Linked DNA regions of Homo sapiens. The protein of the gene in region 1 interacts with the protein of each later gene in a biochemical or structural test. Each region holds a gene or a part of one and is shown on either strand. Other genes may lie near its edges.

Region 1 (7,439 bases):
GGATTCTGAGACTGGATAACATTGGATTTCACACATAGAGAAAAGAAAGTAAGCTGGTGCCGGACCTGGTGTTGACACTTGGATCCTCCACTTACCAGCGGGGTGACCTGGACAATTTCTGTAATCCCTCTCACTCAGTTTCCTACTCAGTAAAACGGGGATGATAATGTGCCTTGCAAGGCTTTTGTGAGGCTTCATCAATGAGGTGATGTATGTGAAGTGTCTGGCACAGCATGGGCACTCAAACAGAGGTGCTTTTTCACACTTTACACCTTACAAGGTACTTTTCACATGTGTCATCGCGATACTTGCAAGGTTGCTGAGAGGTAGATGGGGTTATAATCCCTGGTGTTCAAGAAAGGAAGCAGAGGCTCAATGGGGTTGAATGACTTCTCTGAGTTCACAGAGCTCAGTAAGTGGCAGGGTTGGAACTCACATTCAGACTCTCTGACTCCAGACTTAGGTTTTTCCGCACCTCCACGCTGAGGCCAGCCCCAGGCAGTGAGAAGCCCAAAGTCCGAAGCACAGAGTGCTGTGTGTTGGGCTCTGTGTGTTGAGGAGTCTTGTGACTGCCTTGGGGCTTTGGGCTGTAGTCAGCTGACAGTCCTTTGTGCTCTGTGGGGATGACGTAGGCCAATGGGAGGACAAATGCCCCTCTGAACTGTCTTCTGGGCAGTGACAGTCATGGTCATAATCCTGACCCTGAGCCAGTGCCAGGTCTCCAAGTGCCTTCTGAATGACCACAGGCGATTGGTTTTAGTGGTAGGTGTGTGGGGATCTGTTCTGGTCATCTGGATGCTGGTCATCGGTGTGCAGTATTGATCAGGACCTGCAAACCCAAAAGCTTATGGGAGCTGGCACGTCACGTGAGTAGAGCAGGCAGGTGCAGGGGTTTTGATGTCCCTGCACTGACACAGTTGTCTGCAGTTCTCAATTGACATTTCGCTCCAGTGTCGAGGGTCAACAGGAATGTTGGGGCGTGGGGCAATCTGGAAGACACAGGGAGCAGGGCCCTTGGCTCAGCTGATAGTTGCCGCAGGGATTACAGGCCCAGGGCAGCCTGCCACAGCTGGGGCTTTTACCAAAGAAAATCTCCCTATGTTAAATGCTTGCTCAAAAATTTTTAAAAAATATTCTGTAAGTCAAAATCCATTGTTAGGTCAGTTTGAGAGAGCCATGTTTTTGGTGTTTTAGTAACCAATTTCATTTTTTTATTATTTATTTATTTGTTTATTTTTGAGACGGAGTTTCACTCTTGTCACCCAGGCTGGAGTGCAATGGCATGATCTCAGCTCACTGCAACCTCCGCCTCCCGGGTTCAAGCAATTCTCCTGCCTCAGCCTCCTGAGTAGCTGAGATTACAGGTGCCCACCATCACGCCTGGATAATTTTTGTATTTTTTAGTCGAGATGGGGTTTCACCATGTTGGCCAGGATAGTCCTGAACTACTGACCTCAGATAATCCGCCCACCTCAGCCTCCCAAAGTGCTGGGATTACAGGCATGAGCCAGCACGCCCGGCCACCAATTTCATTTTTTAAAAAAGGAAGAAAGAAAACCTTAGCCAGAAGATCTTTTTCCTTGCCATATGCAGTAAGAGTAGATTATAAAAACAAAGTCAGAGCAGTCACTGGTGTCTGGGCATGGAGGAGAAAGAAGAATTCTCTTCTCCCTTCACCCTCCATGCCCCTTTTTGGCTCCATGTGATTCAGATTTCTGGACCCTGGAGCCCCACCCCAAGCTAAAGACCAGGATACAGGGAAGCCAAAAGCCACTGGCGGTTCTGAGAACTTACTTTTCACTTATTCTGCATTTACTGTTTCCTTTTCTTATGCAGAAAAAGAAAAAAACCAAGGTAGGTGTGTGGGTAGAGAGCATGAAGTGTGTGTACTCATGCATATGTATGTGCATGCATGTGAAGTGTGCATGTGTGAGCTCATATGCATCCATGCACCAGACTTGCCTCTTCCTCCCCCTCCTTCCTGAGCTTCTGCTGGGGCCGAGCGTGCAGTAATGACAACTACGATTTGCTGGGGGAAGGCTACGTGCCAAGCACTCTTTTAGGTGCTTTCCATGATTAATTCCTTCCTCACAACAGCCCTATGAGATTAGTACTATAACTATCCCCATTTTCAGAGGGAGAAAAGGTACAGACTTGACTAACTTGCCCAAGGCCACACAGCCAGAGAGGGGCAGAGCCAGTACTTAGAGCCAGGCAGTCTGGGTCCAGAGTCCGTGTCCTGAACCACAAGAGGCCATCATACACCATCAGATTTGGTGCTAGCATTTCTGGTGGTGCCTGGTGGTGATGGATCCATCACAGGGGTCCTCCAGGTACTGGTGCTGGCCCAGACCAGAGCTGACACTCCTCAGGCACTACCACATTCCAGGCACTGTGCTTGGGGTCAGTCCCTCTCTTTTTTTTCCCCCCCAATTATAACAGTATCTACAAAGTAGGTGCTGTTATTTTTCCCCTTTCACAGGTGAGATAGACTCAAAGAAGTGAACTTGCCCAAGGAACAGAACTAATGAGTGGGGAAAATGGAACTGGAAACCATGTCTGTTTACTCCAAAACCTGTGTTTCTTGCCCTCTTTCTCTGATGCCAGCCCCCTACACTTCAAGGCCTGTGTTGTCCAGACCCACACTCGGGCCTGCCAGTGTGTGCCTGGCAGGGATGCTCCATGGCCACACCATATCCATCCTACACATCCCCCCTCAGACTGTGACCTCCATTTGCTCTGGGATCCCCACAAGCTTCAGCTGCTTGAGCAAGACACTGCTTAGAAGGCAGAGCAAGCCAAGGCCTCTGGGGCCTGCTGGGAGCCAAAGCTGGGGAGCCGTTTCCACGGGTCTATCTGCTTGAGCTGTCCTAGATGAGCAGCATGGAAGGGCAGTGGTGCATGAGTCCAGGCGGGCTGCTTTTCTGCTCCGAGAGGCTCTGCCTGCCCAGTTGTTCTCTGCATTGCAGCCTCAATCCCCACAGCCTTGCCTTCCCCCGGCTTTCCCTACAGGTGCACCGCATCCACAGTGTTGGCACCATGCAGCAGCCGCTCTCCGTCCTTTTCATATCCTTGTCACTTGCACGAGCATGTCTTGAAAATATCCCTTGTTTGTGTAGCATCTTAAATGTTTTTGCAGTATGATTTTGCATTCAGTATCTCATTTGATCCCCACAAGAGCCCTATGAGGAGGGAAAGCAGATTTTACCATTAAAGGATGAGTAAACTGAGGCCAGAGAGGATATTTTTGGTTTTTTTTGAGACAGTCTCACTCTGTCACCCAGCCTGGAGTGCAGTGGCTTGATCTTGGCTCACTGCAAGCTCCACCTCCCATGTTCACACCATTTTCCTGCCTCAGCCTCCCAAGTAGCTGGGACTACAGGCACCCACCACCACACCCAGCTAATTTTTTTGTATCTTTAGTAGAGATGGGGTTTCACCCAGTTAGCCAGGATGGTCTTGATCTCCTGACCTTGTGATCTGCCTGCTTCGGCCTCCTAAAGTGCTGGGATTACAGGCGTGAGCCACCGTGCCCGGCCAGAGAGGATATTTCTTATATGAGGGGCAGGGCTGGGATTCCAGCCCAGTGTTCTGATGGCTCACCCACTGACCATGCCACTAATCCGTGTCCTTTTTCAATCTATACTTTGCAGGGTTGTAGAGGTTCCTTTGAGGTGCCTCAGTAGCTGCCATGGTGATGTGGGGTGCTGAGGGCAAAGAGCTCTGTTCTCATTAATCAGAGAAGCTTGTGTTTTTATATACACCATGTTTCTGCAGGAAATTTAATTTGAACAGTGTTTCCATCTGGAAAAAAAAAAGTCTACAAAATACTTGACAATCACTGCACTAGATCATGCTGCTTTTAGCATTCTTAGCATTTCACGTGCTGAGCTCTCAATACTCTACCATGAGGAGGGATGGAGTGGGTATGAAAAGATAAAGAACTGAAGTCACACGGCTTGTCAGTGGCAGAGATAGAGCTTGAACCGAGGTTGAAGAGCTCCCGCCTATTCCTTTCCTCTTCTCACTGGATAAAGCTGCTCCAAGAGAGGTGCTGCCTCAGTGTGCCTGTTCAGACTGTAATCCTCCCTTCCTTCCTGCCTCCTCCCTCCTCTCTCCAGCCCATCATCTTCGTTTCGGACAGAGCAAACAGCAACAAGGAGCTGGGTGTGGACCAGGAGTCAGAGGAGGGCAAAGGCAAAACAAGCCCTGATAAGCAAAAGCAGTCCCCACAGGTGTCTGGGCATGTGGCATGGGTGGGGTGGCCAGCACGCTACAGGGGCTTCCTATGCGCTTGGGATACACAGGGGCTGGAGGCTTCCCAGGAGTTTGTCTTGAACATCTGGAGGTTTGAATTTGTCCCACTGACCTTTTCTTTCAGCAAGTTCCCCTGAAATTTGGGCTGCTGCTTGGGTGAATATCCCAGGATGGGGGTTCCATTCTAGGAGTGGACTGGCAGGCTGAGCCTCCCATGGAGCTGATCCAGCCAGGATACAGAGAAGGGGAGGCAAAGGCTGAGACAGAACCAGCTTGAGAGCGGAGGCGCAACTCTTGTCTCCTGGTGGCCTTGAGCATTTCACAATAGGGGGATAAAGGATAGGAGCAGAAAAGTGGGGCTGACTTCAGAAATGGGGTCCTCTAGAGCTCACGGGAGGGTGTTAGATTGGAGTGGGAGCTTAGTGGAGGTGAGCCTTAGAGGCAAAAGTCTCCAGACCAATCCAGGGCCCCTCTTCTATCCGGGGGCCCCTCTTCTATCCAGGGCCCCTCTTCTGTCTGGGAGCCCCTCTTCTATCTGGGGCCTCATGCAGTGGGGCCTAGGGGAGGTTCTCTGAGGACTTGGCCTTGATGACAGGGTGGCTGGAGGAATCAGAACGGTCAGACCTTCTTTGACCTGCGGGCACCTTTAGTTGGAATGGTCAGGCCTGGGATGGTGGAGGGGGCTCTTGCAGGTGGGGACTGGGGTGGCGGGGAGGAGGCTGTATGGCCGCCATATCTCCTTTGGCTGGGGGCGTCAGGGCTGGAGAGGTGTGAAGAGTCCCTGAGGCCTCGATGCATCTCACTCCAGCTCACCAGGTCTGCATTTGCCCGTCCCCAGCTCCTGCTGCCACCTCCGGCCGTTTTAGGCACTTGGCTCCCTTGGCCCAGAGGAGCTTGCCTCACAGGCCTGTGCACCTCTGACCCCTGTGAACCAGTTTTCCTTTGTGCCTCCACAGCCACAGCCTGGCAGCTCTGATCAGGAAAGTGAGGAACAGCAACAATTCCGGAACATTTTCAAGCAGATAGCAGGAGATGTGAGTACCTCCAAGCCCAGGACGCCCACAGGTGCTTCCTTCTCTCCTGGATTAACTGCTCAGATTACCAATTATTTCATTATTGTTTGGTAGAGGTCACTTTGGACTTTGGTGGAGCCAGGGGATGTGTGCGTAGCACACAAATCCACAAGCCCTTGAGTTTTGGACTGCCACGTCTGCTGGGGGGCTCAGAGGCCTTTTTGCTCTGAGCTGCCCACGGTGGTCCTGATAGCTGAGGTGCAGTATCTGGCCCCCTGTCTTCCTCAGAAAAGCCCCAGCTTCCCATGACATAATAGCACCGACAGGGATTTTACAAACACAGCCAGGTGGAATTTGTTTTGCAAAGTGTCCGCGCCAGGAGCTGCTGTACTCCTGAACCATGACCCTCCTCTCCCTTCCTCCTCAGGACATGGAGATCTGTGCAGATGAGCTCAAGAAGGTCCTTAACACAGTCGTGAACAAACGTGAGTTGCTCAAACCAAATGGGGGTGGGGTGGGTGGGGAGTCCCGTTGTCTCAAAGCAGCTCCTCACTCTTCTCCATCCCCCCAGACAAGGACCTGAAGACACACGGGTTCACACTGGAGTCCTGCCGTAGCATGATTGCGCTCATGGATGTATCCTTCCTGCCGCCCCTTCCCGACCCTCTGTCATCAGCCCACGGGGGCCAAGGCAACATACAGGGTGCCCAGTCAGGCAAAGGGCCCTAATTTGTGCCCAGGGAAACTTAAGGAGACCCTGATTCAGAACATCTTGGATACTCGTCTGAAAGGGGTTGTTAGAGGCGGAAGGGGAGGATGTTGGGTTGTAACTGCCCTAACCCCTGTGCTTCTCTCAGGCCTGGGATCCTGCCCAAGCAAAAGTGGTCCTTAGGAGAGCGGCTCCTGGGTTACAGAGTAGGCGCAATCTCTGACTGGTGGTGGAGTGGAGGGGAGGGTTAAATAGTACAACAGGGCAGTGGGTAGGACAGCCCGGAGTCTCCTAGACCCTCCCTCCAAATCCAGGGGGATTTTGCTGTGTGCTGTGTAGCCCTGACCTCCCTCCTCCAGACAGATGGCTCTGGAAAGCTCAACCTGCAGGAGTTCCACCACCTCTGGAACAAGATTAAGGCCTGGCAGGTGGGAAGAGAAAATGAAGCGTGGGAGTCAAGAATGGGGTTGATTTGGAGATTCAGTGTGTGACCTCCATCCTCAAATTTTCTATTGCCAGAAAATTTTCAAACACTATGACACAGACCAGTCCGGCACCATCAACAGCTACGAGATGCGAAATGCAGTCAACGACGCAGGTGCTGAGAAGGAAGGGGTGGCAGGGATGTGGACCCGAGACGGTGGGAGCAGGAATGGGAGGGGACTAGGCTACTAGGGCCCCACTAGAGAAAGGAGAGGGAAAGGGCTTCTCACTTTCCCTTCCCAGGTCACAGAGTGGCCGAGAGGCAGGGAAAATAGAAGGCAGGCCCAAGGCCTCCAGCTCCACGTCCACCTCTAACATGGTCCCCTCCACAGGATTCCACCTCAACAACCAGCTCTATGACATCATTACCATGCGGTACGCAGACAAACACATGAACATCGACTTTGACAGTTTCATCTGCTGCTTCGTTAGGCTGGAGGGCATGTTCAGTAAGTGGGAGAGGGGGGCTGCCCTCTGCTCTCTTGCAGGGGCAGTTGTGGCAACAGGCATCTCACCTGATAATCTCCAGTCTGCTCCATCCAGGCTGAACAAGGGCCAATGACCTCTTTAGGCCCAGAATGGGATGGCAAAGGGAGGGTTACTGGTGATTCTCTGCCTGCACATCTTTGTGCTGATGAGGGACAGCACTGGGCACATGGTCCTCTGAGGGGAAGTTACAGTAGTAGAGGCGGAGTGCGCCTGTAACTGGCCTCTGGCCTGTGCATTCTTTCACAGGAGCTTTTCATGCATTTGACAAGGATGGAGATGGTATCATCAAGCTCAACGTTCTGGAGGTAAAGCATAGGCACAGCACATTCCCCCTACACATTAAAACTCAAGGTGGAGGGGTCAACGGGGCGGACTGGACCCAGGGTGTGCTCCTCATTTCCACACAGTGGTGGAGGGAAGGGATAGGAACAGAACATGGAGGGAGGCTCAGCAGGCTCCCAGGACACATGCACTTGAGGCCCAAAAGG
Region 2 (9,191 bases), on another chromosome or scaffold:
TAGAAGCTAACCTTTGACCTCTGACCCCTAGGTGACCGTGCTCTTTGCTGGCCAGAACATTGAACGCAGTCCCTTTGAGGTGAACGTGGGCATGGCCCTGGGAGATGCCAACAAGGTGTCAGCCCGTGGCCCTGGCCTGGAACCTGTGGGCAATGTGGCCAACAAACCCACCTACTTTGACATCTACACTGCGGGTAGGACGGGCCCCAGGGGGTGCAGGTGGAAAGCCCCTGACCATGTGGGGCTGTGTGGGGGTGGGGGGAGGCTGGGACAGGGATGCCAGCCAGAGGGTGGGCAGCCTCAGGGTGAGGGCACCGGGGCAGCTGTGTGTGTCCAGAGTGGTGCTGACAGCCTCTGTTTTCGGCAGGGGCCGGCACTGGCGATGTTGCTGTGGTGATCGTGGACCCACAGGGCCGGCGGGACACAGTGGAGGTGGCCCTGGAGGACAAGGGTGACAGCACGTTCCGCTGCACATACAGACCTGCCATGGAGGGGCCACATACCGTGCATGTGGCCTTTGCGGGTGCCCCCATCACCCGCAGTCCCTTCCCTGTCCATGTGTCGGAAGGTAAGGGCCCTTCACTGCTCCCCACGGTAGCCCTTACCAAAGCCAGAGGCTTGCAAGGGGCAGGAGGAAGAGCTGGGGCGGGGGTCTGCAGAGACCCCCTCCCTGAGTCCTCCATCCCACCCCCAAGGTGGCTGGAGTTCCTAAGAGCACAGCTGGGAGGCCACAGTGAAGGGTCCCAGAACATGTGCCACCCTGGGAGGGCTGAGCGGAAGTGACGGGGCTGTATGGGTGGGGGCATATCTAGGGAGTACTGCCTGCATGCCAAGCCCTCAGGTGGTGACTGCCCCACTTGTTCTCTCCCTGCACTCAGTGCCCATCGTCCACCAGGCCGAGAGTGATGCCACATTAATGCTCTCCAGTGGAGGCGGGGCCAGGCATGGCCGCAGCTGACTGGCCTCACCTGTGCTGTGTGGCATGGCCCGGGCCGTGTGGAATCGCCCCCCCTTCCTTGGCATTCTGTGGCAGGCCCCAGGTTCCATGCCGTTGTCTGTGTTCTGTGGCAGGTCTAGTGTCTTTGCCACTTGCCTGGTGATTTCTATGATGAAATCTGGGCTCTGAGCCATTGCCTGTGTTCCGTGGTACCCCTTGGGCAGTGCCATCGCCTATGGTCATGGTAGTCCTGGAATATGTGTCGTGTCCTGTTTCGTAGCACCTGTGGGTCCCATGCCATTTTTCTGGATTCTGTGGCAGGCTGAGATTCCCATTCCTTTGCCTGTGTTCCATAGCAAGGCCTGGGCTCATTGCCACTGGCCACGGTCTGTGGTAGGCTGATGTCCACACGTTGCCTGTGTTGTATGGCAGGCTTCGAGTTCTATGAAGTAGCCCTTGTTCTGTGGCATTGCTGGATGTTTTGTGGCATGACTTAGATCCTAAGGTTGCTTTGGTGCCCTGAGAGGCCCAGAGGGCTCTAGATGGATGGCCTTGGGCTGGGTAAAGGGGCCTTCCCTGTCTCTCTGAGCCCACTCTCAGCCCAGGCTCTGCCATGCATTTCCCCAGTGGCACTGGCTCGGAAACTTTCTTGTAACCTGCCTGATCTGGGGCCTGTAGCCAGCTCCAGCCCGGCAGCCCCGGTTGTGCTGGGGACACAAAGGGCTCCAGAGCAGGGCCGTGGGCCACTGCCTGTGCCTGGGAGGGGTTAGAAGGACTGTGCACAGGGAGGTGGGGGCTAGTGGTCCAAGGCCCCTCAGCACCCCCAACCTCCTTTCTCTTCCTCCCCTAGCCTGTAACCCCAACGCCTGCCGCGCCTCTGGGCGAGGCCTGCAGCCCAAGGGTGTTCGCGTGAAAGAGGTGGCTGACTTCAAGGTGTTTACCAAGGGTGCCGGCAGCGGGGAGCTCAAGGTCACGGTCAAGGGGCCAAGTGAGTGCCAGAGCCCAGGGTCGTGAGGGTGGGGCTGGGGGATCATAAGGGAAGTATGGCCAGTGGTTCTGACTCCCAGAGGGCAGTGACAGCCAGCACCACAGCTCCACAGTGACCAGAGGCACCCCAGAATCTCAGGCTCATTGTCTCCTCTCTGCCTCAGTTTCTTGGTCTACAAGCCAGGAATGATTCTCTCCACCCTAAGTGCTATACGGGGTGTTATGCACAGGGATGACAAGTGTTCCCTGCCCTGAGTTGCAGCACTGCTCACTACAGCACTGCCCTCGGGCTGGGTCGGGGTCCCAATGGCTCCTTGAGGGGATTGAGGAGCTGGGACTTCAAGGATATTGATCTGCCTTCTTCCCCACCCTGCCCCCATCTCCTCAGAGGGCACAGAGGAGCCAGTGAAGGTGCGGGAGGCTGGGGATGGTGTGTTCGAGTGCGAGTACTACCCGGTGGTGCCTGGGAAGTATGTGGTGACCATCACGTGGGGCGGCTACGCCATCCCTCGCAGGTGAGTACCTTGCGCCCCCCATGCTGTCCTGTCTAGGCCATCACAGGGAGGGACGAGGGGCACTGGGCTGCGAGGGAGTTTGAGGGGAGATGGAGTTTGGGCTGCGAGGGACTTTGGGGGGCACTTCCTGGCATGGACACCAGCTCCCTCTCTGCCCAGCCCCTTTGAGGTACAGGTGAGCCCAGAGGCAGGAGTGCAAAAGGTCCGGGCCTGGGGTCCTGGTTTGGAGACTGGCCAGGTGGGCAAGTCAGCCGATTTTGTGGTGGAAGCCATTGGCACCGAGGTGGGGACACTGGGTAAGTGGCTGGGGGGCAGGAGGAGGGAGTGCTGCGGGGGAGGGCAGCAGGGGACACTGTGGGTAATGGGTGCAGTGCGCATGCTGGGGAGCGCTGGGGTGAGCAGGGAGATAGGACATGAGGGCAGCTAGAGGGGAGCTGGGGGACGGAAGGGTCTTGCCTGATGCTGGATCCCCGACCCTCCCCCACCTTGCCCCAGGCTTCTCCATCGAGGGGCCCTCACAAGCCAAGATCGAATGTGACGACAAGGGGGATGGCTCCTGCGATGTGCGGTACTGGCCCACGGAGCCTGGGGAGTACGCTGTGCACGTCATCTGTGACGATGAGGACATCCGAGACTCACCCTTCATTGCCCACATCCTGCCCGCCCCACCTGACTGCTTCCCAGATAAGGTGTGGTCCCAGCTCACACACACCTGCCCCGGGGGTGGGGCAAGCTGGTTCTCCTCCCCTCCCCAACTCAGCCTTCTTCCCTCCGCACAGGTGAAGGCCTTTGGGCCTGGCCTGGAGCCTACCGGCTGCATCGTGGACAAGCCCGCTGAGTTCACCATTGATGCTCGTGCAGCTGGCAAGGGAGACCTGAAGCTCTATGCCCAGGTAGGTCATTGTCCAGTCTCTGCTGCCCTTACTACCCATGGCAGGGACCCTGGAAGGCAGGGCCAGGCCAGAGGCAGAGGCCTCCCAGCAGGAAATGACAGCATCACAGAAGATCAGGCAGGACTGATACTCATGGGCCCATCAGTACCATGGAAAATTTTAAATTTTGTGTTTTCTTAACGATGATAACCTAAAAACGTATTTTACCAAAGAGTCATTTTTGTGCTAATTTGTAATTGAAAGATTGTTTCATTGAATAAGACACTGGTTTCCCAAGTCAGTTTCTCAGACTGGTGTCCATTGACCCCTAGAGGTTAATGAACATATTCTTGAGGATCTAAGAGGGTGATTCTTCTTTGAAAGGCTCATGATTCAGTTTTAGGAACATAAATTTAGCCCACACTCTTCCTGTCCAACACATTTCAGAGTTGAGGAAACCTAGGCTGGGAGAGCAAGCCATACAGATGGCCTTGAGTCAGGCTCCCAGGGTGGGCTCTGGCCGCCAGAGCACGTGGCCCTGGGCTCTGGTGGCCTCAGTGGCTGGTGTGGGGGCGGGAGTGCCAGTGTTGGGGGTGGGAAAGGAGGCGCTGGGTTCACCTGCGGCCAGCAGAGGGCGCTCTGCAGAGGCCACAGCTATGAACTTTGCTTGGGTGATGCCCACAGGACGCCGACGGCTGTCCCATCGACATCAAGGTGATCCCCAACGGCGACGGCACCTTCCGCTGCTCCTACGTGCCCACCAAGCCCATTAAGCACACCATCATCATCTCCTGGGGAGGCGTAAACGTGCCCAAGAGCCCCTTCCGGGTGCGTCCTCCCGGCCTGCCCCGTGCCCACCACCAGGGGTCCCTGAGGGAGGGCGGAACCCTCGCTGGAGTCCCTGTTGTCCCTGGGCTCAGGCTGGGACTGAGGCTTGGGCTGGTGCCACTGAGGCTGGGCCGGGTGCGCTGGGCAGGAGGATGAGCCTTGAGGGAGGGCACCACGCTGAGCTGCGACCCCTCCCGCAGGTGAACGTGGGCGAGGGCAGCCACCCCGAGCGGGTAAAGGTGTACGGCCCCGGAGTGGAGAAGACAGGCCTCAAGGCCAATGAGCCCACCTACTTCACGGTGGACTGCAGCGAGGCGGGGCAAGGTGCGCCCAGCCGGAAGGGGTGGGTCTGGGAGGGGGCGGGGGTGAGTCGAGTCGGGGGCTGAGCCCAACTCACAGCAGTGCCCGCTTCTCTGCAGGCGACGTGAGCATCGGCATCAAGTGCGCCCCAGGCGTGGTGGGCCCTGCAGAGGCTGACATTGACTTCGACATCATCAAGAATGACAACGACACCTTCACCGTCAAGTACACGCCACCAGGGGCGGGCCGCTACACCATCATGGTGCTGTTTGCCAACCAGGTACCTAAGCTCCTGGGTACTCACAGCGACATGCACCTGCCAGCTCCAGAAGGCAGCTGGAGATGCTGTCACTGGGAACAGGGAGGGATGATTCCGCAGACATGGTGGAGCCCTACCTGTGTGAGGCAGGGTGCCTCAGAGGAAGCAAAGGGGGCCCTTTTGGAGGCTGCCCCTGTCCATGCTGGGTCCCCTGGGTGTGTCCTGAGCCAGCATCTAGCTGAGAGCAGGGGTGTGTTCCCCTCGAGAGCCCTGACTGAGCCTCCTCCACATCCAGGAGATCCCCGCCAGCCCCTTCCACATCAAGGTGGACCCATCCCACGATGCCAGCAAAGTCAAGGCCGAGGGCCCTGGGCTGAATCGCACAGGTGAGTGTCTGGGCAGGGGCTGGGACTGGCTCGAGGTTGGGGTTAGGTGGCTGCCAGGCCCTCACCACATCTCTGGGTGGGTCCTCAGGTGTGGAAGTCGGGAAGCCCACCCACTTCACGGTGCTGACCAAGGGAGCCGGCAAGGCCAAGCTGGATGTGCAGTTTGCAGGGACAGCCAAGGGCGAGGTTGTGCGGGACTTTGAGATCATAGACAACCATGACTACTCCTACACTGTCAAGTACACCGCTGTCCAGCAGGTGCGCTCTGCCCCTCCCATGCTACCGCCCGGCCGGCCCGCCAGAGCCCTGGGTCTCCCTCCTCCAGTCCCATGGGACCAGTTCTGGATCCTCCACGCCTTTCCTGCCTCCTGCCCTCACTCTCATGGTGGATCTGAGCTTCAGAGCCCATATTCACCACCAGGATGTTGTAGGACCTTGCCTTATATCCAGTTCTGACCTACCATTGTACCCAACAGGGCAACATGGCAGTGACAGTGACTTATGGCGGGGACCCTGTCCCCAAGAGCCCCTTTGTGGTGAATGTGGCACCCCCGCTGGACCTCAGCAAAATCAAAGTTCAGGGCCTTAATAGCAGTAAGTGGGGCAAGAGCCACCCTGGGAGTGAGGGGTATTCGGGTAGGGTGGACCGGAGTCTCCTCATGGTGTCACTTGCCCTCCACGCAGAGGTGGCTGTGGGACAGGAACAAGCATTCTCTGTGAACACACGAGGGGCTGGCGGTCAGGGCCAACTGGATGTGCGGATGACTTCGCCCTCTCGCCGGCCCATCCCCTGCAAGCTGGAGCCAGGCGGTGGAGCGGAAGCCCAGGCTGTGCGCTACATGCCCCCGGAGGAGGGGCCCTACAAGGTGGATATCACCTACGATGGTCACCCGGTGCCTGGCAGCCCGTTTGCTGTGGAGGGTGTCCTGCCCCCTGATCCCTCCAAGGTGAGGAGATAGGAGCTGGTTGGGGCTGGGAGTTGGGGACTTGTTGGGAAGATAGATGAGTCATAGGGGGCAGAGGCCAGAGGGACTTATGTGCCTGGAGTGGGCACAGCCAAGGGTGTGGGGCTGAGGCCAGCCCCACCCCACCACCTGCCTTGGAGACAACTTAGCTATTAAGAGCCTGGCCTTGGAGTCACACCTGGGCTTGAATCCCAGGTCCACTAACTGGGGCAAATTGCTTCATCTCGCTGCCTCAATGTCATCACCTGGGATTGTTATAAGCACTCAGTCCACAGTAGCAGCCACAGTTGGAGGTGATGAGTTGGGTGGGGGCCATGAAGGCTGGGATGAGGAGGCCAGGTGCAGGGAACCCACAACCTGCCTCTTCCCCTAGGTCTGTGCTTATGGCCCGGGTCTCAAGGGTGGACTGGTAGGCACCCCCGCGCCATTCTCCATCGACACCAAGGGGGCTGGCACAGGTGGCCTGGGGCTGACCGTAGAGGGCCCCTGCGAGGCCAAGATCGAGTGCCAGGACAATGGTGATGGCTCATGTGCTGTCAGCTACCTGCCCACGGAGCCTGGCGAGTACACCATCAACATCCTGTTTGCTGAGGCCCACATCCCTGGCTCGCCCTTCAAAGCCACCATTCGGCCTGTGTTTGACCCGAGCAAGGTGCGGGCCAGTGGACCGGGCCTGGAGCGCGGCAAGGTCGGTGAGGCAGCCACCTTCACTGTGGACTGCTCAGAGGCAGGCGAGGCGGAGCTGACCATTGAGATCCTGTCGGATGCCGGGGTCAAGGCCGAGGTGCTGATCCACAACAACGCGGATGGCACCTACCACATCACCTACAGCCCTGCCTTCCCTGGCACCTACACCATTACCATCAAGTATGGCGGGCATCCCGTGCCCAAATTCCCCACCCGTGTCCATGTGCAGCCTGCGGTCGATACCAGTGGCGTCAAGGTCTCAGGGCCTGGTGTTGAGCCACACGGTGAGTGGACAGGAGGAGCCAAGAAAGGTCAAGTGGCAGGTGCAGGAGCTGGGTAGTCCGTGGGAGGGAGGGAAGAAGAGCTGAGAGCTGGAAGAGCAACCTGGGGTGAAGGGAGGGCTCTCGGAGCAGCCCCAGAGTCCTTACTGGCCCAGAAACCCCAGAGAAGGAGTGGAGGGGAAGACCGGGGGTGGAGATTGGCCTCTGCTCTTGTGGCAAAACTGCACCTGCCTCTGGGCGTTTTTCTGGAGAGATCTCTTCTTTCATGTGCTTAAGGGGTACCCTGATCCAAAAAGCTAAAACTCTGCTCTGGACGGGGGCACGGGGAAAGCTTTGGGGTAGAGGATGACAAGAGTCAGAAGACAGTAAGTGGGAATGGGCCATCTGCCAGGGGCCAGACCCTGGCTAGGCATGGGCCACGGCAGAGGGATGCAAGACCCAGGCCCACAGCCTGGTGGGTGACTCAAGTGAACAGAGAATGTCACTACATGGAGAAGGGAGTGAAGGCAGAGGCTGGAGCTCACAGAGGTGCAGGGGAGGGTGTGGGGCCCAGGCTCCGATTAGAGGAGCAGCCTGGGAGTTGGGGAGTGGGAGAGGAGGGGGAGAGGAGGGTGAGAGGAGGGGAAGAGGAGGGGAAGAGGAGAGGGAGAGGAGAGGGAAAGGAGGGGGAGAGGAGAGGGAGCATCTGTGTGAAGGCTGCCCCCACCCCTGCTGAACACGCCACCCCTGGGCTCCAGGTGTCCTGCGGGAGGTGACCACTGAGTTCACTGTGGATGCAAGATCCCTAACAGCCACAGGCGGCAACCACGTGACGGCTCGTGTGCTCAACCCCTCGGGGGCCAAGACAGACACCTATGTGACAGACAATGGGGACGGCACCTACCGAGTGCAGTACACCGCCTACGAGGAGGGTGAGGGCCGGTGGGCCAGGCTAGTGGGCAGGGCTGGGCAAGTGGGCAGGGCCGGGATCTGATGATATTGCCCTCGGGGCAGGAGGGGTGGTGGGGGCGCACACTCCCTGATTGATGCCCCTGTGGCTGGCTTCCAGGCGTGCATCTGGTGGAGGTCCTGTATGATGAGGTCGCTGTGCCCAAGAGCCCCTTCCGAGTGGGCGTGACCGAGGGCTGTGATCCCACCCGCGTCCGAGCCTTCGGGCCAGGCCTGGAGGGTGGCTTGGTCAACAAGGCCAACCGATTCACTGTGGAGACCAGGTATCCTCCCCCTTTGCTAGCCTAAATCTGTGACCACCCTTTCCCAGCCCCTGGCCCTCCTCGCTCATCCCTCTGCCTGGGCCTCAGCCCCACCCCATCCTCTCTCAGGGGTGAGGCAGGAGCAGACCCCCTCCAGGACCCCAGATTGGCCCCTGTAGCTCGTTTCTCCTCAGCTGGGTCCCCAGCGGCCTGCCCTCTTTCCTCCCTGTCCCCCCATTCAGCTACTCCCTCATCCTCACTCACTGGTCTTATGAAGCTGATGGGGGGATGTTATCTCTCAGGGGAGCGGGCACCGGGGGCCTTGGCCTAGCCATCGAGGGTCCCTCGGAAGCCAAGATGTCCTGCAAGGACAACAAGGATGGTAGCTGCACCGTGGAGTACATCCCCTTCACTCCTGGAGACTATGACGTCAACATCACCTTCGGGGGGCGGCCCATCCCAGGTGTGCAGAGAGAGTGGTCGGGGTCTCAGGGAAGACAAGGGAGGGTGCAGGATGCTCGCCCCACAAGGGGGAAACTGGAAGGAAGTTGGGTAAGAATGTTCATAGAGAGGACAGCCTAGAGTGGGTTGGGGCCGGAGCCCGGCCAGAGGGAGGACGTGGAGGAGGCAGGCAATGAGGGTTGATGTGACAGCCCCCCTAGTCAATCACAGGAACACACTCTGGCCTCCTAGCCCCTTGTCTGGAGCTCAAGACCTTGGCTTTGCAGGTCCACCACTCACTGTGTGTCCAGAAACTCAGACACAGTCCACTCCTCTTGGCGGCTCAGGCCAGCCTTGGGCCTTCTTGCACGCATCGTCTGCAGAACTCCCCTGCCCTCTGCAGACCCAGCTGCCCGGGCAGGTCATGTCTTCAAATATTGTATGACTTGGGACTGCTGAAATTGGAAATTTTTTCCCTTATCTAATTTCCCATCTTTTTATTATTTCAGCCACAGTGTCAGAAATACATTTCATTTTTGAAAA

The links.
Region 2: of the proteins of CAPN3 (region 1) and FLNC, one has a biochemical effect on the other in vitro, tested with the Homo sapiens proteins (one study listed by BioGRID).

The regions. Positions count from the first base shown.
Region 1 is NC_000015.10:42,404,090-42,411,528, forward strand, and holds part of CAPN3 (calpain-3), read left to right. Parts: intron 1-674; exon of another isoform or gene 675-866; intron 867-1,836; coding exon 1,837-1,854; intron 1,855-4,121; coding exon 4,122-4,235; intron 4,236-5,213; coding exon 5,214-5,291; intron 5,292-5,697; coding exon 5,698-5,755; intron 5,756-5,841; coding exon 5,842-5,906; intron 5,907-6,338; coding exon 6,339-6,407; intron 6,408-6,498; coding exon 6,499-6,577; intron 6,578-6,794; coding exon 6,795-6,911; intron 6,912-7,197; coding exon 7,198-7,256; intron 7,257-7,439. UniProt on the Homo sapiens protein: Calcium-regulated non-lysosomal thiol-protease. Proteolytically cleaves CTBP1 at 'His-409'. Mediates, with UTP25, the proteasome-independent degradation of p53/TP53.
Region 2 is NC_000007.14:128,838,236-128,847,426, forward strand, and holds part of FLNC (filamin-C), read left to right. Parts: intron 1-31; coding exon 32-194; intron 195-367; coding exon 368-568; intron 569-1,787; coding exon 1,788-1,925; intron 1,926-2,312; coding exon 2,313-2,439; intron 2,440-2,598; coding exon 2,599-2,735; intron 2,736-2,934; coding exon 2,935-3,128; intron 3,129-3,218; coding exon 3,219-3,332; intron 3,333-3,995; coding exon 3,996-4,139; intron 4,140-4,339; coding exon 4,340-4,463; intron 4,464-4,558; coding exon 4,559-4,719; intron 4,720-4,993; coding exon 4,994-5,084; intron 5,085-5,172; coding exon 5,173-5,342; intron 5,343-5,560; coding exon 5,561-5,678; intron 5,679-5,768; coding exon 5,769-6,031; intron 6,032-6,422; coding exon 6,423-7,020; intron 7,021-7,754; coding exon 7,755-7,928; intron 7,929-8,065; coding exon 8,066-8,228; intron 8,229-8,509; coding exon 8,510-8,670; intron 8,671-9,191.